Linked DNA regions of Homo sapiens: regions 1 and 2 are each linked to region 3. Evidence: fine-mapped expression QTL. A gene starts in region 3. Each other region holds a variant in brackets. All regions are shown on one strand. Distances are from middle to middle.

Region 1 (8,348 bases), 250 kb after region 3:
GACAACACGCTGTGGAGGTGAAGGCAAAGGTTGGAATGATGCAGCCGCAAGCCAAGGAACGCCAAGGTTGGCCAGGGCCAGCAGAAGCTGGAAGAGGCAAGGAAGAATCCTTCTCTGGAGTTTCCAGAGCATATGGCCCTGCTGGCACCTTGATTTTGGACTTCCAGCCCCCAAAACAGTGACAGAATAAATTTCTGTTGTTGTGAGCCATCCAGCATGTGGAAATTTGTTATGGCAGCCCTAGGAAACCGACACAGGTGCAATTCCTAAATAGAGAAAATGCCGGCCGGGCGCAGTGGCTCACACCTGTAATCCCAGCACTTTGGGAGGCCAAGGTGGGCAGATCACTTGAGGTCAGGAGTTCGAGGCCAGCCCGACCAACATGGTGAAACCCCATCTCTATTAAAAATACAAAAAGTTAGCTGAGCATGGTGGTGCACACCTGTAATCCCAGCTACTTGGGAGGCTGAGGCAGGTGAATTACTTGGACCCAGGAGGCAGAGGTTGCAGTGAGCCAATATCACACCACTGTACTCCAGCCTGGCCACAGAGCAAGACTCCATCTCAAAAAGAAAATGCCAAACTTTGCCGGCAGTCATCACGAAAGACCTGAACGAAAGAGACGTGCCATGTTCCTGAGTGGGAAATCACAGGACCTGACAAATGTCACATCTCTCGTTCCTACTCTCCCTTTTGTCTAGTGTGTTCTCTAAGTATACCAAGTTCTGTTTCGATTCAGGAACTTTTTCTGCATTGTTGTTTCTGTCTGGCGTGCTTCCCCCTGATACCTGCATTGCTCACTCTTCTCACTATCTGCTGTTTTTCTTGTTCACTTGATTATTGTCTGGTGTGGCATTTTTCCGGAAACAAAGCACTGATCTCATATTTGGAGGACTTCCAATTGTGAAAGCTTTCTTCTGCAACTCCCTGTTGTAGGTAGAACAGATGTTCTATCCCCATCGCTTTTCAGTAGAGCTGAGGGCAGTGTTAGAGAAAGAGCAGTCTCAGCAGAGATGCGTATCCAAATATGGGAGACTCTGGCCGTCAACTAAGGAAGTTTGAACAGTGTCATTCAGTCTACAAATATGTGCCTTAAACGTAACATTTTTCCAGAAACACAGTACTGATCTCATATTTTGAGGTACTTCCAATTTTCAAAGCTTTCTTCTTCATCTCCTCTGTGACTCCCTGATGTAGGTAGAACAGACGTCTGCTTCAATGCCATGTCCTTACAGGCCTCCTCTCACCACAGCCCACCCCCCAGGGAAGGGCCCTCCTTGTTGCTCTTGTGTTGCCCAACCATAAGCCTTGCCTGGCTCTCCCCACTGTCTGCTGTTTTTCTTGTTCACTTGATTATTGTCTGGTGTGGCATTTTCCCAGAAACAAAGCACTGATCTCATATTTGGAGGTACTTCCAATTTTCAAAGCTTTCTCCTGCAACTCCCTGATGTAGGTAGAACAGCTGTTCTGTCCCCATCGCTTTTCAGTAGAGCTGAAGTGCAGAAAGGCTAAGTGACTTGTCAAGGTCGCGTCATCAGCAACCAAACAGATCTTGCAGTTAATCTACAGCTACCCCTACAACCACAGAGCGTGGCAAGCCCTCCTGCCCCTAGAATGCTGACTCAGGAGGCAGGAGCCTTGTATGACCCATTCCCTGCTGAACCCCAGGACCCAATACATGCCAGCCCTGTCCAGTGAGTGAGTGGATGGGGTGAGGCACAGGTCCAGAAGATCAGGACAGGGATCAAGCCATAGTCACATCTTGAGCAAAAGGAGGAAAGCTGGAGGTATAGAAATGTAGATAAAGTGGTTCTTGAACATCATTTCTTCCTGCAGGCACTCATGGGTTCTACAGTCATTTATCTCGTGTTCAGTAACCTTGAAGCTAATGTGGTTGCTACCAAGAAAACCTAAAAGAAACACCTGGAAAACTATCAGAATTCATCACACCTGTGAGAATGGTATGGAGAAAAGGGAGCCCCTTTGCACTGCTGTTGCAAAGGCGAATTATTACAGCCATTCTAGAAGACAATATGGAGGCTCCTAAAAAGACTAAAAATAGAATTGCCATATGATCCGGCAATCCCACTTCTGGCTATATATCCAGAGGAATCGAAATCAGTGTGCTGGAGAGACAGCTGCACTCCCATTAAAACACTGTTCACAATAGCCCAGACAGGGAGGCAACCTAGGTGTCCATCACTATGTGAAATAAGCCAGGCACAGAAACAAATATCCAATCATTTCACTTACATGTAGAATCTAAAAAAAGCTGAACTCAGAAGTAGAGTAGAGTGGTGATTATCAGAGGATAGGAAAGGAGGAGGATGAACAAAGGGGAGTGCTGCACCAATGGGTACAAAGTTTCACTTAGGAGGAGTAAGATCTAGTGATCTATTGAACGAACAGCTACCATCATAAATGCATTGTGTATTCCAAAGTTGTAGATTTCAGTTGTTTTCACCACACACAAAAATAAGTACGTGAAGTGATGGATTTGCTCAGTAGCTTGATTTAATCATTCCACAATGTAGAACATGTATCAGAACATATTGTACCCCATAAATATATACAATTGTTTTTCAATTAAAAATAAAAAGTAGAGCTATGAGGCGGCTTCAGGAAAGAGGCAGAGCTTGAACTGGTTGTGTTGTAGAATCTGGATATGTAGAAAGGAAAGGAATTCCAGCAGGAAGCACATGAACCAAGAGTCCGGAGCCCACCCACTCAGCATTGCCGAGGACAGTGTTAGGGAAAGAGCAGTCTTAGTAGAGATGCGTGTCACAAATACAGGAGACTCTGGCCGTCAACTAAGGAAGTGTGTACAGTGTCATTCGGTCTACAAATATGTACTTTAAATGTAACATTTTTCCAGAAACATAGTATTGATCTCATATTTTGAGGCACTTCCAATTTTCAAAGCTTTCTTCTTCATCTCCTCTGCGACTCCCTGATGTAGGTAGAACAGATGTTCTATCCCCATCGCTTTTCAGATAGAGCCGAAGTGCAGAAAGGCTAGGTGACTTGGCAAAGGTCACGTCATCAGCAACCAAACAGGACTTGCAGTTAATCTACAGCTGCCCCTAAACAGAGCGTGGCAGGCCACACCTGTCACATCAATCTCCATGCACGTCTTTGGAGAAGAGACAGCTGCAACATTTTAGCTTTAAAAAGTACTTAGCAAATAATGCACCTACAAGCAAGAATGGTGTCTGGGGATCCTGTTATTTTTATTGTTGCTGGATATAGAACCCACACAGATGGTAAGTCTGGCTTATTAATGGCATTTTGCAGAAATCTATGTGTTACTATTTCAGAATTGCTGCCTGGCCCCCAGGTGACATCCCCTTCCCGCCAGGTCTCAGTTTAAGAGCTTCAGAGAATCTGGAAACTCAGGGATTTCATGCATGGTCACCACCTGTCCCCTCTCTGAGGCCGTGGCCCCTACTTTAGCAGGTTCTGCTGGACTAGAGTTTTATTTTTCTGAGCTTGCAATTTCTCATTTTGAGGTTTGAGGTGCTTTTTCCATCTCAAAACCTGCCCAGCCCGTGACTTTCATTGAATGTCTCAGTATGGATTTCCTCATTGCTCATGTCTTATCTCAAAAGTTGTGTCTTCATTGGCCTTTTCTGGGTAGCTCATCTAAAGTAGCACCAGTCCCTCTGTCTCACCCCATAATGGCTCACCGTCAGCCCTCCTGATTCAATTTCTTTGGCAGCATGTCATTTTCTGGTGGTACCCTGCTTATTCCTTACAATCTAAGTTGTGTGCCTCCCATCAAAGGCAGAGCCTACCCTTCCCCATTTGGAACAGAATGCCGACTTCCTTGCTTGCTAAGCAGGAGACAGTCTCTGAGCAAAGGGAAGAGCTGATCTCACACAGGGCCTTGGAAAGCATGAAGTTCAGGGATTTCAGTGCCCAGAGCATTTAGGGATTGGTTGGCATTTGCCTGCGTCAGTGTGGTTACTTAAGACTTGCGGATTGCCTGCCCTTGGCTGCTGATGTGAAATCCTCGTTGATCAAGGAGAATGGGTTTTAAACTGGTTCTGATGGTCACTTGTTTCTATGGCCAAATAACCAGCCAACATGGTGAAACCCCGTCTCTCCTAAAAATACAAAAATTAGCTGGGTGTGGTGGCGGGCACCTGTAATCCCAGCTACTTGGGGGGCTGAGGCAGGAGAATGGCTTGAACCAGGGAGGCGGAGGTTGCAGTGAGCTGAGATTGAGCCATTGCACTCCAGCCTGGGAGACAGAGCAAGACTCCATCTCAATACAAACAAACAAACAAAAAAACTAATGGAGGAGTGGCCCCAGCTTCTCCTGTGGTGGATGGGGCTGTGAAACGTTAACTTGGAAGGACTGCTGAAAGATGGATGTTACTCTGTTAATGGAGAGGGCAGAACTAGAGCCAGGAATCAGTAAAAGTTTCTGAGACATGGATTTCTGCTCAGTATAAGGAAGACCCTTTAAGAGTTACAGTCGTGCAGAGGTAGAAATGGCCAGGGGCCACCTTCTCATGGTGTTAACCAGTCGTTATCGTTGTCCACTTCCAGCAGCACAGGCCTGTCATACAATGAGCTCCTCCGTGGAACCCCAGTATACACAGGTCAGAGGCATGCAGATCTGTGTCAGTGGAAGAAACTGTGGAGAGCCAGTTCCAGCCACATGGTAACCCCTGACACACCCTGACCAGACTTTACGATTCTAAGAAACAAATGCAAGAACCACTCATTACATTATTTAAAAATTCCTGCCGTTATTCTGTGCAGTGGGCATCTGCATTTCCCACTTTTCAGCTGAAAGGACTTAGGGGAAGAGAAAGTAACTTGAGGGTGGCAGAGCCAGGATTAGAACCCATGCTGGTCTGATTCTGAAGTCACACTCACAATCACACTACCCTATTACCTCCCAGTGGAGTGAAATGAGATGGTCCATTGTTAAAAAGAGGTCTGGGGGGCCGGGCATGGTGGTTCATGCTTGTAATCCCAGCACTTTGGGAGGCCAAGGTGGGCGGATCACAAGGTCAGGAGATTGAGACCATCCTGGCTAACAC[A/T]GTGAAACCCTGTGTCTACTAAAAATACAAAAAATTAGCCGGGCATGGTGGTGGGTGCCTGTAGTCCCAGCTACTCGGGAAGCTGAGGCGGGAGAATGGTGTGAACCCGGGAGGCGGAGCTTGCAGTGAGCCAAGATCATGCCACTGCACTCCAGCCTGGGCGACACAGCAAGACTCTGTCTCAAAAAAAAAAAAAAAAAAAAAAAAAAAAAATCTTTGGGAGAAAGAACAAACTCCATGTGATTTCTTAGATTTTCAGATTCTATCTATTAATTTTGCTTCCCTAGAAATCTTAGTGACTTATTTATTGATGACAGAGATGAATCAAGAAAATATTGCTTTAGAGACAGGTGGATCACCTGAAGTCAGGAGTTCGAGACCAGCCTGGTCAACATGGTGAAACCCCATCTCTACTAAAAATACAAAAATTAGTGGGGTGCGGTGGTGGGCACCTGTAAGCCCAGCTACCAGGGAGGCTGAAGCAGGAGAATGGCTTGAACCTGGGAGGTGGAGGTTGCAGTGGGCTGAGATCACGCCACTACACTCTAGCCTGGGTGACAGAGTGAGACTGAAAAAAAAAAAAAAGAAAGAATATACTGCTTTAAAAAAATCTTGTGAGTGCAAATTCCTTGCTTGAAAGGAATGAAGGACATATAAAAGGATTTTTCCACTAGTCACTGGACTATTTATTAGAGAACCTAGTACTAAATACCCATTAAAATATTTTCCTATCCATTGCCCCATTAGGTGTCTGGTTTGTTAATCCACAGTGCCTTCTTCATCCTTGACTTCATGCTCCAATAAATGGGACTTTGAAAGGCCCACCAGTTGGTAGTGGACAAGGCATTTTGCACATAAAATTGTACATTTGTGGGTGCTTGAGGTTTTTTTGTTGACATCTTTTTCTTTTGAGACAGGGTCTCTCTCTGTCACCCAGGCTGGAATGCAGGGCTTACTGCAGCCTTGACTTCCCAGGCTTGAGCGATCCTCCCTCCTCAGCCCCGCCCCGCAAGTAGCTGGGACTACAGGCATGTGCCACCACGACTGGCTAATTTGTTTGAATATTAGTAGAGACAGGATCTTGCTATGCTGGAGGCTGGTCTCCAATTCCTGAGTTCAAGCAATCCTCCCATCTTGGCCTCCCAAAGTGCTAGGATTACAGACATGAGCCACCGTGCTTAGCTGGTGCTTGAGGTTTTTAGGTCCAATTACAACATTTCATCTTTTTACTCACTAGTCAGCAGCAGAGATTGCTCACAAGAGAGTATACTGAAGTTCTGTATTTTATTAGATTGCTCACAAGAGAGTATACTGAAGTTCTGTATTTTATTATCTCCACTACAGGACCTTTACTTTTGCAAATTGCTTGACGTATTCCTCCCTGAAACTTTTGTAACGCTATAATTGTGTCACAAATATAAGCTCCAAGGACTCTGCTACAATAAAAACATTTAATGTGAACAAGGTAAGACAGGCTCTAAATCTTCCCCATGCCATTTTCATTTCCCCGGGCCTGTTTTTTTTACTTCACAGAGAATACAAATTTGGCCCACAGGAAAAATACATCCATGGGACCCAATCAGCCTAATTCAGTGCAACACCAACCTCATTCTGCTACTTTCCCTGATCAGGGATGGCCTTTATGCAGCTTCCCCTGAATGTCAATGATCAATCTCTTTGAACCAAATCCTGGGGAAATTTGAACGTCTCTAGCTGTTGAAATATCTTTGATTTTGTGAATAATATTTTCATATACTTATGCATCTTGTTCTCTGTGTAATCTGTTATAAAAATTAGAAGAGTCTCGGTATTCAATGACATGAAGACGTCTTTCCCAATCACATTCTGCCTGTACATGAAACTTGTCAGAGTAAACAAGTTGAGTTGACGGACAACCGGGTGCCCCTACGGAAACGTACTGGCAATCAGGCCTGTGAGCAGGAAAATGTCCTGAAATAACCGGAGCAACTGGGCACAGCGCACAACTTCCCAGCATTGCAGTTTATTGTTTTAGAGCCCGAGCCCCAGGCGGGATGCTCAGGACCTGCATTCCTTGGCGATTGGGGGAGATGGTAGAATGTTACAGATGAGGGTGCTTTACATGAGCTCACTCATTTGTGAGAGTCAACTCACTGTGGATTCAGGAGGTCTGAATGATTCCAGCCCTCTGGCTTTTCTTGGAGGAAGCCAACCCAGGCAAACCAATTGCCACCCACGGAGGATGGCTCTTCACCAAAACCCAGGAGGGCCCAGGCCCGAAGACTAGATTGCTCCAGCTTCCTATGGCAGAAAGAGGATGATAAAAATAGTTGATGTAGCAACCTGTCGTGCTGCCCAAGGTGCGTAACCTCATGCTTGTTTGGAAAGACTTGAACAGGTAGCTGAGGGTGCAAACAGGGCAGCTGCATTTGGAGAGAAGAGGATGAAAGAGGAATGAAGGGAGGCGGTGGGACCGGAAAATCAAAGGTGTGGAAAAGATGTGTTATGGTGGGTTAGGTTAATGGACATCTCCACTTCAACAAGACCTTCCACAAAAAAGCTGACACCTCGTGAGAAATCAAGGTCCCACTGCATCTGCAAGAAGGGAAGTTGCGTTTGGTGAGAGCCTGTGATACAAGTGATAAAGATGGAAGCTTACCTTTGAAGAACCACGAAATGCCTCCAATGGACAGGTCATTAAACAGCAGTTCATCTACTCGAGTATTTCCAGGGCTTTGTCTCTAGCTCAGGCTGTCCTCACATCCGTCTGTCAGACACCTCTACTTGACGGAGGCCACCCTTCCTCCCACTCCCTGGCCCTGTGTCCCACACCTGTCCCTTCTTAATGAGGGACCCCATCTGCCTGGGTGCCTGGGCCAGGAGGCTCCCTCCCCTTGGGTTGTCTCCACCCTCACTCATGCCCATCGCTCTGGACTTGGCCTCCTCAGAACCCCCGGGTTCCATCCCTGGCAGCCTGAGGGGCACTCACCTCCACCGCTGCCGCCTTCTGGGTCCTTCTCTTCACAACAGGTGATGCCATCTTCCTCAAATGCAGATCCGACTGTGTCACCTCCAATGGAGACCTTCAGTGACTTTCCATTGTCGATCGGGTAGAACCCACACTGTCCCAGGACCAAACAGGGCCCTGCTTCCACCCTCACCTTGTTCCCGCCCAGGCTTTGTTTGTCCTGCATTGCACACAGTGCCCGGTACCCCGCAGGTTCACTCCCAGCTTTAGGGCATTGCATGTGCTGCTTCCTGCCCATCACAGCCTGGCGACCCTCGCATCCCTTCGGAGCCTGCCACGCCTCTCCT
Region 2 (8,348 bases), 230 kb after region 3:
CCAGAGTCCCGCTGAGTCCTGTAACAGATGCTATTCATGACATGGGCTGAATTGTCTCCTCTAAAATAGATGTGTGAAGTCCTAACCCCCAGACCCTCAGAATGTGACCATATTTGGAGATATATTTTTTAAAGAGGAAATTAAATTAAAATGGGGTCATTAGGGTGGGCCCTAATCCAGTATGTCTGATGTCCTCATAAGAAGAGATTAGGACACAGACAACACAGAGGGATGGCCATGTGAGGACACAGAGAAGGTAGCGTCTGCAAGCCAAGGAGAGAGGTCTCGGAAGAAACCAACCCCACTAACACCTTGATCTTGGACTAGTAGCCTCTAGAATTGTGAGAAAATAAATTTCTGTTGTTGAAGCCACCCAGTCTGTGGGACTTTGTTACCTGTGCTAGTCTGTAGCCCTAGCCAACTAATACAGATTTTGGTACTGGGAAGTGAGGTGCTGCTGTAGCAAATACCTAAAAATGTGGAAGTGGCTTTGAAAGTTGGTAAGGAATAGAGGCAGGAGGAGTTTTGAGGTGCATATTAGAAAAACCCAAGACTGCCTTGAAGGGATTGTTGGTAGAAATGTGGGCATTAAAGGTGATTCTGGTGAAGACTCAGAAAAGAGGACAGCTGTAGAAAATGCCTCTACCATTTTAGATGCATTCACATGTCATCATGAACAGAATGTTGTTGGCAATATGAATGTCCAAGGTGCTTATGGTGAGGTCTCAGAAAGAAGTGAGGAGCATGTTCCTGGGAGCTGGAGGAAAGGTGATCCTTGTTAAAAAGTGGCAAAGACCTGACCAAATAGCGTTCTAGTGTTTTGTGGAAAGTGGAATGTTTAAGAAATGAATGTGGATGTTTTAGCCAAGGAGATTTCCATGCACAGTGTGGAAGTCACAGCCTAGTCCCTCTTGTTGCTCGTAGTATACTGTGAGAGGAGAGAGAGAAACAGAAGGAGGAGGAATTATTTAGTAACAAGGAACCAAATCTTCTAGCTGAAGATTTAGAAATCTCAAATCTTCTAATCTCAGTCTATCCATATGGCAAAAAAATGGGAAAGTGTGCTCTGGAGGCAACACAAGGGTGCTGGGACAGCATTTGCTAAAGAGATTACAGATGTGACAGATGGATCCAGTCAGCCAGCCATCTCAGCAGAAGCGCTGCCGGCTTGCACCAAAGGGCCCAGAGACAGGACAGGTGAAGCAAGGCTGTCGTACTCTGGCATTCCACGGGCCAGCAGAACTGTCTGGCATGACTTGTGATATCCTCCAAGGAAAGGGGTGAATGATCCTGAGATGGTACCGAGGCCAGCAGGTCTGCCACTGCCACCATGGGCCCAGCAGGCACAGCCTGGAGTGAGGCTGTTTCCTCCTTGGCTCCAGGGGGTTAGGCCAAGGCAGGGCTGCCTACCTGGGGGTGGGTGATGGCGCATCAGCAGAGAGGACTTAAGTCTTCAATCCCTGGAGCTTGCCCTGCTAGATTTCGGGCTTGCTGGACACTGTGACCTCTTTCTTTCTGAGTTTTCTTTCTTTTGGAAGGAAAGGGGATGCCTGTCCTATGTCTGTCCTATGCCTGTGCCACCATTGTATTTTAGAAGCAGGTCACTGGGTCACAGCTGGAGAGGAATTTTGCCTTAGGATGAATCATACCTCAATCTTCACCCATACCTGATTCAGATGAGATTTAGATAGGATTTGGGACTTAGAGATGGAGCGGGAATGCATTAGGACTTTGGGGCTGTTAGGATGAGGTGAGTGTGTTCTGCATGTAAGATGGACATGAATTCTGAAGGGCACGAAGGCAGTGTTGCGGGGCTGAACTTTGTCCCCCTCAAATTCACATGCAAAGCCCTCCCAACCCCTAGTGTTTGAGAATGTAACCATGTCTGGAGATAAGGTTTTTAAAGACCTAATTAAATTAACATTGGTTCATTTGGGTGGGTCCTAACCTAATATGACAGGTGTCCTATAAGAAGAAGAGATCAGAACACAGGGAACAGACAGAAGGATGAGCATGTGAGACTCAGACAGCCACCTGCAAGCTACGGAGAGCAGCCTCAGGAGATACCAGTCTGCTGACAGCTTGGACTTACAGCCACAAACTGTGGGGAAAAAATTCCCGTTGTTTAAGCCCCTAGCATTTTCATTACAGCAGCTCTTGCAAACTAATACACCCTGTAAACTTTATTAAAAGAAGGAATGAAATCTACATTCTAGGAGCTGCTGGAGATATCTGTGGACATAGATGCTGGTGGAGCTAGAGGCTCCAAGTGATTTTGTGGCACCTGCACAGTAAAATAGATTTACTATTAGAATTTTTAGAAATGAATACTTCATTCAGTCTTTCCCAGTAAAACCGTGTGAGCCCAGGAATTGGTGGAATTGGACATCACTCAGCTGAATGGCTGAGGGAAAATCATGACTCCTCGGTAGCCCTTTATGGGGAGAGGAGGTAGCACAAGGCTCACTGGAAGCTGGGGGCCCTGCACCAAGGTAAAGATGAGCAGAGGCACTGCCGGTGAGTTTTCCCAGCATAACTTCAGGAATAGAGCTGAGATGACACAGCCTGTAGAACAGGGGCCTGGACAGCCACCCAAGCTGCACTCCCTACCTGCAGTACCTTAGATGAACAATGGGTTCCTTCCACAAATCCCACTTGGGTGTCCCAGAATGAGGGAGGTGCGTGCCAGGAGCTTGTCCTTCTTGGCACGCTGTGGAAGTCCCCAAGATCCTAGAATCCTCTTTTTCATCCCCAAGTGGGAAAAGAGTCAGTGGCTTGGGCCTGAGGGTGGGGTGGGAGGCGTTTGGGCAGGAGAAGTCTCAGATATCCTGGGGTGGGCTCCATCCTATCAAGGGCTGCCCTGCTGCATTTTTCTATAATCCCATCACTCAGAAAGAATATTGCTAACATTTTTATTATATAGAACTTCCCAGTGTTTACATAGATTTTATTTTTACAAAACTGGGCCCATACTGTACGCGTTGTTTTAAACTTTTTGCCATTTAGCAGTGTGTTAATCTGTGGTTAGCTGGTCTCAGTTTCCTGGCAGAGGCAAACAACCCGAGCTCTCCCTTGGAGCTCCTGAGCAGGGAGAGGGCTCACAGGTTTCAGCTGGAAACCTTTTCAAATGGGGTTTTTGGTAGTGCTTGTTCTTCTAGGTACCCTTCTTCCTGGCCTCCTGTGTCCCAGCTTCCTGAAGTGACCTTCCTGGTATTTTTGACCATAGGCTAATCTCCTGCTCAAGAATTATCCAACAGTGAGAACTTGACTGGGAGTCTCCCCATGTACCTTTGGACAGAGGGGTTCTGGCTTGGAAGGCAGCTGACTGTGCAGCTGCGTATCTGTGGGCGCAGGCTGAAGAACACTGTACGACGAGTGTCACTGAGACTTGCAGGCAGAATAGTCAGGGCACCAGGCCATGTGGATAGTCACCAGCACCAGTCAGATGTTAGCTTCAGGCAGACCTCATGTGGGAAGATGGGGCCAAGGGCCAGCCTTTCTCCCACTCTCACCAACAATCAGTGGTCACAGCATCACAGGCCAGCTTAGAGCAAGAAGTGGCAACCGCTGTGGATGGGGAAAGGACAGTGAAATTTCACCATGCAGAGTTCTGTAGGCAAAAATACTGTTAAAAAAAATTACACCTCGAGGTTTGTCTGTTTCTTGTTTTTGTTTTGCACTGTTCCCGTAAATGTCATTTTCATGTGTAGACAAATCCAAATAAGGAGAAATCAAGTGACTTGTCCAAGCATTGCATGGCACAGAAGGTCACAGAGAAAGAACTTCAGTTCCTCTGTAGATACCTGGTTTCTGGTGGTGTTTTGTTTTTAAATTGTAGTAAAATGTATGTAGCATGAAATTTATGATTGTAGCCATTTTTAAGTATACATTTCTGTAGCACTAAGTACATTTACATTGTTGTGCAACCATTACCACCATCCATCTCTAGAACCCTTCATTTTCGCAAACTGAAACTCTCCCCCTGTTAAACACTAACTTGCCATTCCTCCTTCCTCCAGCTCCTGGTGATCACTGTCCTACTTTTTGTCTCTGTGAACTTCACTACTTTCAGGACCTCACACAAGTGGGATCATACAGTCTGTGTCCTTCTGTGTCCAGCATATTTCACTTGCCAATAATGTCCTCAGGGTTGATCCATGTTGTAGTGTGTCTGAATTTCCTTTCTTTTTAGGGCTGTATAATACTTCACTGGGGGTCTGTGTCCCATTTTGTTTATCCACTCATCCACCCATGGACACTTGGGTTACCTCCACATTGGGCTAGTAAGTGGAGGCTGTAAGTGTGGCTATGCAGATACCTTTTCAAGACTTTGTTTCTCCTTCTTTTGGGAAGTGACCCTAGTTTCTAGAAAAGTAGGCAGCATATTAGATGATTAAAACAGCTCTTTT[TA/T]ACATCATTTTAGAGTTCTATTTTCAAGTTGCTGAATTGTACCAAATTGGGTTTTTATACAGTGTTGATCTAGTGTGACAAATATTTCTGAAATGTGGTTTTTGTTGGTCGACTTGAATATATTTCTTACAACGTTTTACACCAAAACTGTTTCTTCATAGTTATCTAAATGCAGATAGTAAATCCATCAGGCCCATTCTTGGCATCACGTTAGTTTTCTGATAATTTATCACATAGCAAGCTGTCAGTGTCCCTGTAAAAGATGTGCTGCTGCAGTTTGGAAATTCAAGTTTTGGAAATTATTTTTATTTTCTAAATCTTTAGAAAAAAATTCATTTTTTGAAAATACAACAGCTCTAAAATCTATTTTCCCAAAGCTTAACCAGAAACTCAAGCTTGGAGAAGGTTGTTCTGTTTTCCAGGGAACCCTGGGAAAATACCGCCTTGTTCAAAAGCAGCTTCCTCTTGACTTTGCTCGTAGTGTCTGCCTCCATCTGGAACCATGGTGTCTGTATATCATTTTGGGCAGGATTATCAGGCTGTTCTCTTAGACTTTTCTTCTTACTATTGGGAGAATACGCTTTGCAGTGACGCCTGTTGACCACCAGACGGCGGTGTGTCCATGGCAGCTCCCAGGTTCACTTGGGATTTGCTCCTTTGACGTTTGACAGTTCTGGCCTTAGCAGGGCCTCTGACGCTTTCGTTTTGTTGAAGTCTTACCTGGATTCCAGTATTTCACAGGATGATCTCTTATTAAATCTCATTTAAATGAAGCATAAATAAAAGTTGTTTTAAGTAAAAATTATCCCAAATCAAAGTAAATTATTATTTATTTATTTATTTTTGGGACAGAGTTTCGCTCTCGTTGCCCAGGCTGGAGTGCAGTGGGGCAATCTCGGCTCACTGCAACTTCCGCCTCCTGGGTTCAAGTGATTCTCCTGCCTCACCCTCCTGAGTAGCTGGGATATTAGAGGTGCCCACCACCATGCCTGACTAATTTTTTTTTTTTTTTTTTGAGACAGAGTTTCGCTCTTGTAGTCCAGGCTGGAGTGCAATGGCGCAATCTTGGCTCGCTTCAACCTCCACCTCCCGGGTTCAAGTGATTCCCCTGCCTCAGCCTCCTGAGTAGCTTGAATTATAGGCATGTGCCACCATGCCCGGCTAATTTTCTTTGTATTTTTAGTAGAGACGAGGTTTCACCCTGTTGGCCAGGCTGGTCTCAAACTCCTAAACTCAGGTGATCCACCCGCCTCAGCCTCCCAAAGTGCTGAGATTACAGGTGTGAGTGACCACACCCAGCCTAAATTCTTAAAACTATGAAATTTAGTACAGTAAATACATTTGGAGCTTGTTATCACTCTTTTCACGAGGCTGTGTGGAAACAAGCAGTGACGCTCTTCATCTGATGAAGAGACCGGAATGGGCCTTCCTCGGGCCTCCTTCCTTGCCGCCTGCCCACAGGTCCCAGTGCTCCTTTCCCCAGCAGCTTCATGTCTCCCCAGAGCCACTGGCCTTGCTCAGCCCCAGCCTCCCCACCCGCCTCCTTACTGTTCTTGTCCTTTGTCACAGCAACTTGAGCTGGTGTGGAGCCCTCCTCAGTCCTTCATAGCTGAGTGCTATGAGTCACCGGGAACAGCCATAGGGGTCTCGGGACATCACTCAGGACAGGATGGTGCCTGCATGTGAGGCTCAGACCCAGACCCTCAGCGTTCAGCAGAGTTGGCAGGACATGACTTAGAATGCCGAGGCTGGGATCAGGGTCAGGAGGGTGAGGCCCTGCACTAGGGCCCTGGCTTCACTCACAGGAAATGGTGACTGTGTGTTTTGGCTGCCTGCAGCAGGTTGGAGGGGACCCACTCTGCCTGAAACACCCCCTCCTCAGCCCTGGTTCCTCTCCGCCAGAGCTCCATGCTTCCCTCACCTCAGTTCAGCTCTCACTGCTGTGGGAAGCCTTCTGAGATCATGTGCTGGGGGCCAGGCATGCAAAAGCAGATGTTGCACTTCCTGACTATGAGGAGAACAGCCCAAGAGGCTGAGTTCAGCAGCCACATGCTGCATAGTGTGGGCAAGGACAGGAGGTTTCCTGGAGGGTGTGCAGTGGGTGGGCACCCTGTGGGTGGGCACCCCTGGGGGCTTCCTGGGGAGAACGTGCTGAATCTGAGTGCATGACCCAGGACCAGTGCTCCACAGATAGTTCCCTCACTGAGAAGGTTCCCCCCACCCAGAGGAACTATCTAGAAATAAACCTAATTTGAAAGATAGCTGACATGAGAAGTTCTTAAAGTAGAAGTTTTTGAATTTCTCCCAGCATTCCATCAACATGTAGATGGGTTGGCAGGGTGGATCTTAGCACCTCCTCTCCCAACCTACCTTTTTAGTTGAGTGGTTCTCAGAGTGTGGGCCCGGGGCAAGAGCCTCAGCCTCACCATCATCTGGGAGTTCCTTAGAAATGCACATTCTCAGGCCCCACTGCAGACCTACTGATCCCCACAGTGTGAAGGTGGAGCCCCCTGTCTGTTCTAACAAGCCCACCAGGTGATGGGGTGCGTGCTCAAGTGTGGAAACTACTGCTTCCATTCTTCCCGGCTTGTGAGTTCTCTTTTTAAGAGACTGAGGCAGAGACTGGACACCCTCCCCCCATAATCCCTGCCTTTTGCCTAAGAAAGCCCCTACACAGTTCCTCCCTTCTTTTCTCCCTGGAGGTAGGGAGGGGCCACCGAGGAAGCCAATGTCCTCTAGGTCTGCAGAGGCTGAGTGTTTTCCTCTGGGCCCCTGCGGAAGGGCCCTCACTGGACTCCACGTGGCAGCTCTTGGCTGCTGCATCCACCCTTTGTTAGCAGCCTGTCCTCACGGAGACCTGCAGCCAGAGCCTGCTGTGTGTGTGTTAGATCTCAGTGAAGTGATTCGCCCTGAAACGCTTCCTGGTGATGATCCCAGTTAACCAGTCCTCATCCTTCTGGGCACCAGATCAAGTGGATTTGGCTTTTAATCCCAATATGGTGGTCTAACCAGACATTTACTTAGATCACTGGTCTTCCTGGAGGATGCAGTTTTCTGGAGTCTGGTCTCCAGCAACTTGCCTTGGCAGGCCACGTGGCCTGGTGTGGCAGCTAAGCATAGGCTATTTTTGTCTTTGCTTTGCAGGAACGAGCTAGAGCGACAGTTTCTTGAATTGCTGCAGTTCAACATCAATGTTCCTTCCAGTGTCTATGCCAAGTATTATTTTGATCTTCGTTCTCTGGCAGAAGCGAACAACCTGAGCTTTCCCTTGGAGCCCCTGAGCAGGGAGAGGGCTCACAAGCTTGAGGTAAGATGGTTTAAAACAGCGTTTTGTGGTGCAGTGTTGCCAATACATCATCTGAGTACCAGAGATGCATGTGGTCACATTGATCATTTCCCCCACTACATGATGTAAAATAAAGATGAGCTACTAGGATATATAGCTGGGCAGTTGATTATGATTTGTTCTGCTTCTTTTTTCTTTGAGACGGAGTCTCGCTCTGTCACCCAGCCTGGAGTACAGTGGTGCGATCTTGGCCCATTGCAGTCTCTGCCTCCCGAGTTAAAGCAATTCTGCTTCAGCCTCTCAAGTAGCTGGGATTACAGGTGCCTGCCACCACACCCGGTTGATTTTTTGTATTTTTAGTAGAGATGGGGTTTCACAATGTTGGCCAGGCTGGTCTCAAACTCCTGACCTCAGGTGATCTGCCTGCCTTGGCCTCCCAAAGTGCTGGGATTACAGACGTGAGCCGCTGTGCCTGGCCAGCCACTTCATATTTTTAATAACCAGTTTAATATCACTTTATACTTAATAAGCAAAGGTTTTTTGTTTTTTTGGGTTTTTTTGAGATGGAGTCTTGCTGTGTTACCCAGGCTGGAGTGCAGTGGCACGATCTCAGCTCATCACAACTCCGCCCCCTGGGTTCAAGTGATTCTTC
Region 3 (8,348 bases):
CTAGTTCTCAAGGATCCCACATATATATACCATTTCTCTTCTTGAAAAGTATGGAAGGATAAAGAAGGTAGAGTTCGACAAGACAGAGCCTGGGCTTCCTAAGGCCATTTAGTCTGGGGACAAATGGTGAACTTGCAGTGGTGAGGTAGATAAATCAGTTTCCAAGTGGGCTTTCTCCCAGATGCCAGAGACCCTGGCTGTCCCTGTTTCATCATGCATTCCATCAACAAATGATTTACTTAGGAAAAAATATGGGGCACAAGTGCTACCCTCCCTCACTCGTTCCCTCATGGTGGCTCCCTTCTCGGCTAAGCTGGAACATGACCTCAGAATCCTCAACACAACGTCCCTGGCAGTTACTCTGGTCCAAAAGACTTGACACTACTACTTAAAACTATTAGCCATCCTTATTTCTTGTGGGAATTTTTATTTGGACGCACAATTTCTGGGTAGTTTCTAATTTCATATAAATATATTTCTCATGGTGGAATTTTAGGTATATGCCCAGGCGATAAATGTAGGTATTTATAGGCGGCAGGCTTTGCATTTCTCAGATTTCACCACTCAGTGGCTGTAATCACTCTCATTGCTGGAAACTTGTTCTTGTGATTGTTTAACTTACTGGACTGTGAGTTTCTCCAGAATGGAAACTATAATCCACTTTCGTATCCTCAAGGTGCCTGGCTCAGTATACTCTCAAAAATGTTATCCAGAAATGAGTCACCTGACTTGATCAAGGTCAAGTGGCTATCAAAGTAAATACTTCCCCTGTAGCTGGTTACACTGTGGACTGCCTACTACCAAGGACAAAAGGCAGGCCTCATTTGGAGAGGAGGTCGGTGACAGGAGGAGCATCAGTAGCACAACACACAGAATGTCTTGGTTATTTCACAACTGCCTTATAAATGCTCGAGTAACCGTCATGAGAAACTGACTACCAGGTGAAAGGGCAGCCATACTCTGAGGAGACACTACAGATTTTCCTTTCCACAAAAGGTTCAGGTCCTGGGCTAACTTGGCTCAGTGTTTTCTGTGTTCCAGAAGGTGACTCAGGGAGTTGTGCAAATGACTGACTCATATTTCATGGATACGAGTATGGCTGATGTAAGACTGCAGTTATCTCCTCCTGATTCAATTAAGGTAGACTATTCTTGATTGTTTTTATCAGTAGATCTATAAATTATACAAGTTGATACTAATATTGCTTATGTTTTAAATAGTGTGGTTCCACAGAAAATTTTGTTTTTTCTGTGAGAAACAAAGCTACTATTGCTAAAAAAGTGTCAAGAGCACTGACTTAGCTATAGTTCATCTGAGTTTTTTTTGAGACGGAGTCTTGCTCTGTCACCCAGGCTGGAGTGCAGTGGCACGATCTCGGCTCACTGCAACCTCCACCTCCCGGGTTCACACCATTCTCCTGCCTCAGCCTCCCGAGCAGCTGGAGCTATAGGCGCCCACCACCACGCCTGGCTAATTTTTTGTATTTTTAATAGAGACAGGGTTTCACTGTGTTAGCCAGGATGGTCTTGATCTCCTGACCTCGTGATCCACTCACCTCAGCCTCCCAAACTGCTGGGATTACAGGTGTGAACCACCGCGCCCGGCCCACCTGAGTTTTATATTTACCTGGTTACAGTGACCAAATTCTTCAACAGTGATCATGGAGAAAGATGAGACAAAATAATTCCCAAATGATTCTTTCTGCTCAAAGACCAGGGTGGGTATGAGTAGATCCAGGTCAATTTTTTTTTTCTTTTAAGAGACAGGGTCTCACTCTGTCACCTAGGCTGGGGTACAGTGGTACAATCATAGCTCACTGCAGCCTCCTACTCCCAGACTCAAGCCATCTTCCTAATCCTCCTCAAGCTTGAGGACAGGCCTTGTTACAATGCTCAGTGTGTACCTCTCCCCTTCTCCACTCCCCTTGTCCACATTCTGGGCTAGATCCACACTCTATTGAGGAACTGTCTCTGTATTTTGATTCCCGAGTGACACAGTGTTGGAGATCCTGTGGCTAGATACACAGGTTATTTCTGCATATGGCTACTCCTCAACCTTGTTGCCTGTCTTACTCTGGTCTGAGAGCTGAACCCCACAGAAATAACAAGGCTCCCCTCATCCCTTTCTCTGAAAGATTAGTACTAGTCCTAAGTGGTTAGCTCCCAGCTTCCTTTAGGACAGAAAAAAGAGAAGGAGAGAAGTGACACTTGTTTTTTTACTCACAAAGTCTTGGAGATAGGAGGTAGGAGGTTGGGGTGGATGTAGCTTGGACTTTGGAATTAGAACCAGGTTCAAATCCCCAATTAGGACATTTCTCAGTATTTTGATCTTAGATAGGTTTACTTATCAAAGTGTCTATTTATAAAATGGGGTATAACTTAATCAGATTTAGATGTAAGAAATAGTATAGTGCATGGCAGCTAGCAGGCTTTCAACGAACGACATCTCTCATTACTATCATTTTGACATCACATTTATCTGCTCAGAGTTGGTTACTGTTCTGCAATTTTTCCCAAAGTGTCACTGTGTGTCAGGCAGGGAGTATCTGCCTGGAGGAGTTTGAAGTATGCATGTAGGGTGGATGAGTTGTGGGGGTCGGCACCCAGGTAAATCACTAGCGAGGCTTTAGTACCCGTCTTTTCTCTCCAGGATTCTTGACCAAAAGTTACACTCTAAATTAAAGTCCAAACAGGTACATACCTAAGGGGAATATGGTGGAAATGTCAAAGAGGAGATAGGGAAAGAGGGGGAGGGGGGCGGGGCACAAAAATCCTGGCAGACCAGAGGCTGTACCACCCTTTGTTAAGGGTATGTGGCTACACTGATCTCTCATCCTCCAGATGCTCTTCCCAGTTAACACTGCCCAGTGACCTTCTTGGACAGGAAGCATGCAGCCAGCCATGCTGTCACCTTAGTGCCACTGTCTCTTTCTCCTCTTAAGCCCTTCAAACCATAATTTGAATGTAAATGTTATACATTTTATAATGAAATAAAAATAGCTTAATGCATCTGAGTAGATATGCCACACACCTATGGTCCAATGACTGGATGCTGACTTTCATATGTGGCCCAAATTACAAAGCAGCAATCAGAACAGACAACAACAGACAACAAGGGAACTTCTCTCCCACGGGTTCAGCAATCTGACCCAAACTCCATAGCCCCAGACAATCTGAATACACACATGCAAGTGTAAATATGCCCCAGTTTTCCCAGGAAGCAGGAAAATCTACACAGCCTCAATGAAGAGCACTATTTTGGACTGTTGTTGTCTACCCACCCTCTCCAGGGCTTTAATTCTTTAGAACTTCCCTTTTACACTTCTTTTCTCATCTGGTCAGCATTACCACTTTGCAGCCACTTATTTTCCATGGACATCTGCCACTTATCCTAACAAATAGCATTAATACAGTTGAGAGCATGGAGCGTTTAAAATATGGACTAATAAATGTATAAACAGTACTTTGAGAGGGAGGGAAAGCACAGGTTAAAAAATGGCTAGATGTAGAGAATTAAATGAAATGTTTATAAAGCCGTTCACACGATGTCCACACATTGCTGATGCTAGATAAATATCAAGTCCCTTATTCCTTCTCTTACCTTTTAGTAACTGGATTTGTCACGAACAGGTACTGAGGTCTGCATAAATCAAGGCATGATTTCATCTCTGGGCCTCAGTTTCCTCATATATAAAATTAAGACAGTTGTACTATTGTACTAGTTTTTTTTTCAAGAACTAGTTCAAAAACATTCCCAGCTCCCACCCCCACCCCCCCACCCCACAAGACTCTCCTCAAGACTCCTTCAGTAAATATTTGGAAAAAGGGTGGGAAGTTTGTTTCTGCCACCTTATATTCTTCCCAATAAAGGCAAGAAAAGTCAGGGATGGCTGGCATTGTGGGCGTCGGGAGGGAATGCGAACCAACATTTACTCTACTTCTCTCCCAGCCAGGCATGTTCACATACCTTGATCTTAGTCAACTGGCCTAAGTTAACTTGTTCCCAACATGACAAAACCCGATGGCATTCTAAAAGCAAAGCAAAGCAAAGCAAGGGCAGTCGATGAGTTGTGTTAACTTAGTTTTCTATCTCATGTTAACCTCCAAGGAACTCAAAACAACTCCACAGCGAATTCAATATTAAAATAGCTCTGGGACCCCAAGATTTATTTCACAGCTTAAAGCAAGGTCACTATCAAGTCCTCGGCAAAGCTCAAAATACAATAGAAAACTCCCAAATCAAGCCCCAGCTTATTTAAATGCTTAGAAAAAAAAAATAGCCAGGTGCCGTGGCTCATGCCCGTAATCCCATGGGAGGAGTCCAGACGGGAGGATTCCTTGAAGACAGGAGTTCGATACCAGCCCGGGTTACGAAGCGAGATCCCATCTCTACAAAAAGTTAACACACACACACACACACATTCACCACCTTAGCCTGGCTTAGTGGCGGGCGCCCGTGTTACAAAGGGAGATCCCATCTCTACAAAAAGTTAACACACATACACACCCTACCTTAGCCTGGCGTAGTGGCGGGAGCCTGTAGTCCTCGCTACTTTGGAGACACACACACACACACACACCCGTAGTCCTCGCTACTTTGGAGACACACACACACACACACACACACACACCTTAGCCAGGCGTGGTGGCGCGCGCCTGTAGTACCGGCTACTTTGGAGGCTGAGGCGGGAGAATCGCTTCAGCCTAGGAGTTCGAGGCTGCAGTGAGCCGAGATTGCGCCACTGCCCTCCAGCCTGGGCGACAGAGCGAAATCATACCTCTAAAAAAATAAATTAGAAAAATAAAAAGACAAAAAGAGCCAGCCCGGTTTCGGAGAGGCAGGTGCAGCCTCAGCGCCCTGGGCCTGCGTCCCCGACCGGGCCCTGGCTGCGCTCCCGCCCGCTGCGGGCCCCGGGGACGCACCTCGCATCCCGCGCTGGGCCCCGTTCCGTCCAGCCCGGGGGAGTGGAGGAGGCAGAGGCCGGGTGGGGAAGGGCCTCCAGAAACCGAGCTCCCGACGACGTCTCCCGCGACCCCAGTGCCCGAGAGAGGAGCGGCCCCCGGGAGCGATCCCACAACCGCGCGGGGCTGCGCCGCCCCGAACCTCCCCGCGGCCGCCGATCTGCTTCCAGGGCAGAGGGAAGGGGCGGTGACGGGGCGGGGCGGGGGCTGCGGCGAGGGCGGGCGCCGCTGGCGAGGGAGGGCCGCCAGCATCCTCCCTGGCCGCGCCGCACCGCGCCGCGAGGAGTCCGGGGGCTGCGCCCACGCCCGCTGCCCGCCCGCTCGTCGGCTAGTCCCGCCGTCCGGCGCGGACACGCGTGCCCCCGGCTTGAACCGGAACCTCTTGCCGAGGCGGCCGCCGTCGCCGCAGCCGCCGGGGAAGCGGACACCAACTGGGGAAGCGCGGGGGGGAGGCGGCCTGCGCGGCGCCGCCCGCCATGGCCGCGGCGGGGTGAGGTAGGCGCGGCGGCCGCAGTCGCGCGGACCCGAGCGCTCCTCCGCCGCGGATAGGCCGGCCGAGGGGGAGCCGGGGCCGTCGCCCGCTCGTCGCCGCCGCCGCCGCCGCCGCCCATGGCGAGGCCCCGCCGCCGCCGCCGCTGCTGACCCGGCGGCCGGCCGCCGTTCCGCCCCCTCCCGTGGCGGCGAGCGGGCGGGCCTCCCCACACGCCCCCGCCGCCCGCGCCCCGCGTCCACCCGCGCCCCGCTCCCGGGGACTGGGAGAACAGGATAGCAGCAGGAGTCGGGGGGCCGCCGAAGATGGGGAACACTACCTCGTGCTGCGTGTCGTCCAGTCCCAAGCTCCGGAGGAATGCCCACTCCCGGCTGGAGTCCTACCGGCCAGACACGGACCTGAGCCGCGAGGACACGGGCTGCAACCTGCAGCACATCAGCGACCGGGAGAACATAGACGGTGAGTGCGGCCCGCCGAGCCCCCTACCCGCCCCCGCGGCAACAGTCGCACAGCCAACGTCGGGGCGGCCCGGCTGCTCTTGCTTGCCCAGCCGGTCTCGGCGACCCGTGCATAACCGGGGCTTCGCCCGCGCAGCCTAGGCGCCCGGGGCCCCGCAGCCTCTGGGCGTACCCCTCGCTGGTTACCCCCAAGTGAGCGGCCGCGGAAACTTTGCAGGCCCGCGGCATCGAGCACGGCGGGCCTAGGGCGGGTGTGTGCGCGTGGGTCGCGAGGTGACAGGAGCCGGCCCTCGTCCTTAATGGAGCGGCCAGAGCTGGGTGGGGGCGGCCCGGGAGCTCGGGGTTCCCGGCACTACCTGAATGCAGCCCGAAGCCAAGTTGTGCACGCGTTTGTCCTATAAAAGCGAAGTGAGTGGATTCCCATTTTGGAATCCCGGTGTCTCCAACCTCGAGTTGGAGAACCATGTTGAGTCAGTTCCCCGGAACCTTACAAATGGACTCCACTTCCCCCGTTCCCATTCTACCGTTTTTTTTAAAAAATGATTTTTTTGAGTGGCGGTTCCAGGATTAGTCAAATAGCTTCTCCCGAGAATGCTCTTTAAAAGATTGTCAGACACCTTTGGGTTAAGTCTCAGTTTTTGCATGGGCCCGAATTGCAGTCCTATGAATTTCTGATTTATTCAGGTGACTTTTGGTTGGTCTGGAGTTTGCAAAAAGAAAAAAAGCTAAGACTAATTACTGCACGCAGTAATGTTTTATTTATTTTATTGGTTTGGCAACATATTTATTAGCACTGTTGCTCAGTGATAACGACAGAGGGATATTTATGCATCATGCTTAAAATATAGTTTATAGAATTTTCAACTGAAAAGATTTGAAATTGGAAGTATCTTTTTATGACAAGGTGATTTTTTTAACCCAAACATCTTCTCATAGTTAATCTGGTTGAACTAATATGAAGAAATTTTTGTGTGAATGAATGAACACAACTTCATAATTCGTTCCTGTCCACTTTAGGATGGAAGATTCTCTCCACTGTGGAAAGGCCACATTTAAACTTTGCTAAAGGAAAGATTTTTCTCGTTTGTCTTCGTGTAATTTCTTCTAAATGGTAGTTTAATCTTTTTAGGAGAGCATCTTTATTAAATGAGTGCCATGTATAAAGGGAGTAACACAACGTCTGGTTTCTAGTACGCGCTTAGTAAATTATGGTTCCATATGACGTGTCTAGTGTTGTTATTTTAGATTTCCATTATTTTAAACATACGCTTAGATGTCTTTGAACTACAGCCATACTTTCTTCTTAAATTTATGCATTTAAAGGCATCTAGAAGGATGAAGGCCAGATCGGTCTTGATCACTTTCACAGCCTCTAGCACCTGAAAGAAAAGTCTAGCATATAATAAACAGTAAGTATTGTACTTTAAAGGGAGGAATAAATGAATGAGTTTATTACAGAAAGCCATTACCCAGTCCTATACTATGTTGACAGGCGAAAACATTTGGAAATAATGTCTTCTTTATGATGTGCAGTAAATTTCCTTTTTATGTTGTGCAGTATCTAGCGGAGGCTTTGTTTTGAATGATGGATCAAAAAAGAAAAAAAAGAAGATTTACATTTCTTAGAGCCAGGCTGCATACAGTTATTATAGACTATTGTAAGGAAATAAGGTGGAAAAAATAAGTGTAACCAGGTATTTGGCACTAAGGCTCAGTACAATTTTGCCAGAGTACAGTGAAATGATATTGTGTGTTCTTTCATTTCAAAGAAATCTTAAGTTTCAGTCATCAGGAATTTTTGAGAGAATGTTTGGAAGACTCTTTTGCAGATTCAGGATAGTTTGAGAGAGTATAGGGCAGGTTTCCAATCTAGGCTGTGGAGTGCCCTCTCATCCCAGATCCCAGTTCATATGATTATGCTAGTTTAAACCCCGAAATATTAATTCACCTTCTGTCTCTCAAATTCAATAAATAATACTTCTAGCATTGACCCAGCCAGCAGTTCTCAACATTGGTTTCAGTTAAACCAGAAATCTAGTACTGGACATTGCCATTAATATGTTTAAATCTCTCCAAGGTGATTCTGAGATGCAGGTAGGCCTGAGAATTGCTGGCTGGGCAAATCTTGGAAGTGTTACCTGCCGTTCAGGGACATTTTTGGTAGAAATTCATTATTAGAGGCTGAGAGAAGAGAACAGGTTTTAATTAAATAGAGTGTATATATATACACACTATATACATCTATATGTCTGTATTTGCTCATCTATATCTGTATGTATTTGAACTGAGTTATATTGATTGTTAGGTTATTAGTAAACATTTTAAAACTACATTTTAAGAATCATTGACTCTAGTATATATCAAAAGCTGAAGTACTCAAATACCATATTTTTTATGTCCTGAAAAACATCCCACCCAGCTGGTTTAGAAAGGTTTGAA

Evidence for each region.
Region 1: its variant is fine-mapped to the expression of CCNY in whole blood (INTERVAL, PIP 0.92).
Region 2: its variant is fine-mapped to the expression of CCNY in whole blood (TOPMed, PIP 0.99).

The regions. Positions count from the first base shown.
Region 1 is chr10:35,577,184-35,585,531 of GRCh38, forward strand. LOC107984221 (a long non-coding RNA gene) reads left to right here and starts at 4,264. Exons shown (of 3, transcript XR_001747422.2): 1 at 4,264-4,669; 2 at 6,399-6,519; 3 at 6,852-8,348. The variant A/T (reference allele first, on the strand shown) is at 5,055.
Region 2 is chr10:35,558,469-35,566,816 of GRCh38, forward strand. CCNY (cyclin Y) reads left to right here. Exons shown (of 10, transcript NM_145012.6): 9 at 7,555-7,717. Among named protein-coding and RNA genes, the nearest start is that of GJD4, 43 kb to the right of the region's middle. RefSeq lists enhancers at 5,954-6,063, 6,124-6,233, 6,504-6,583. The variant TA/T (reference allele first, on the strand shown) is at 4,410.
Region 3 is chr10:35,331,298-35,339,645 of GRCh38, forward strand. CCNY (cyclin Y) reads left to right here and starts at 5,212. Exons shown (of 10, transcript NM_145012.6): 1 at 5,212-5,910. The coding sequence starts at 5,757. CCNY-AS1 (CCNY antisense RNA 1) reads right to left here and starts at 5,127. Exons shown (of 4, transcript NR_186477.1): 1 at 4,923-5,127; 2 at 4,631-4,779. RefSeq lists an enhancer at 944-1,238 and a silencer at 4,838-5,577.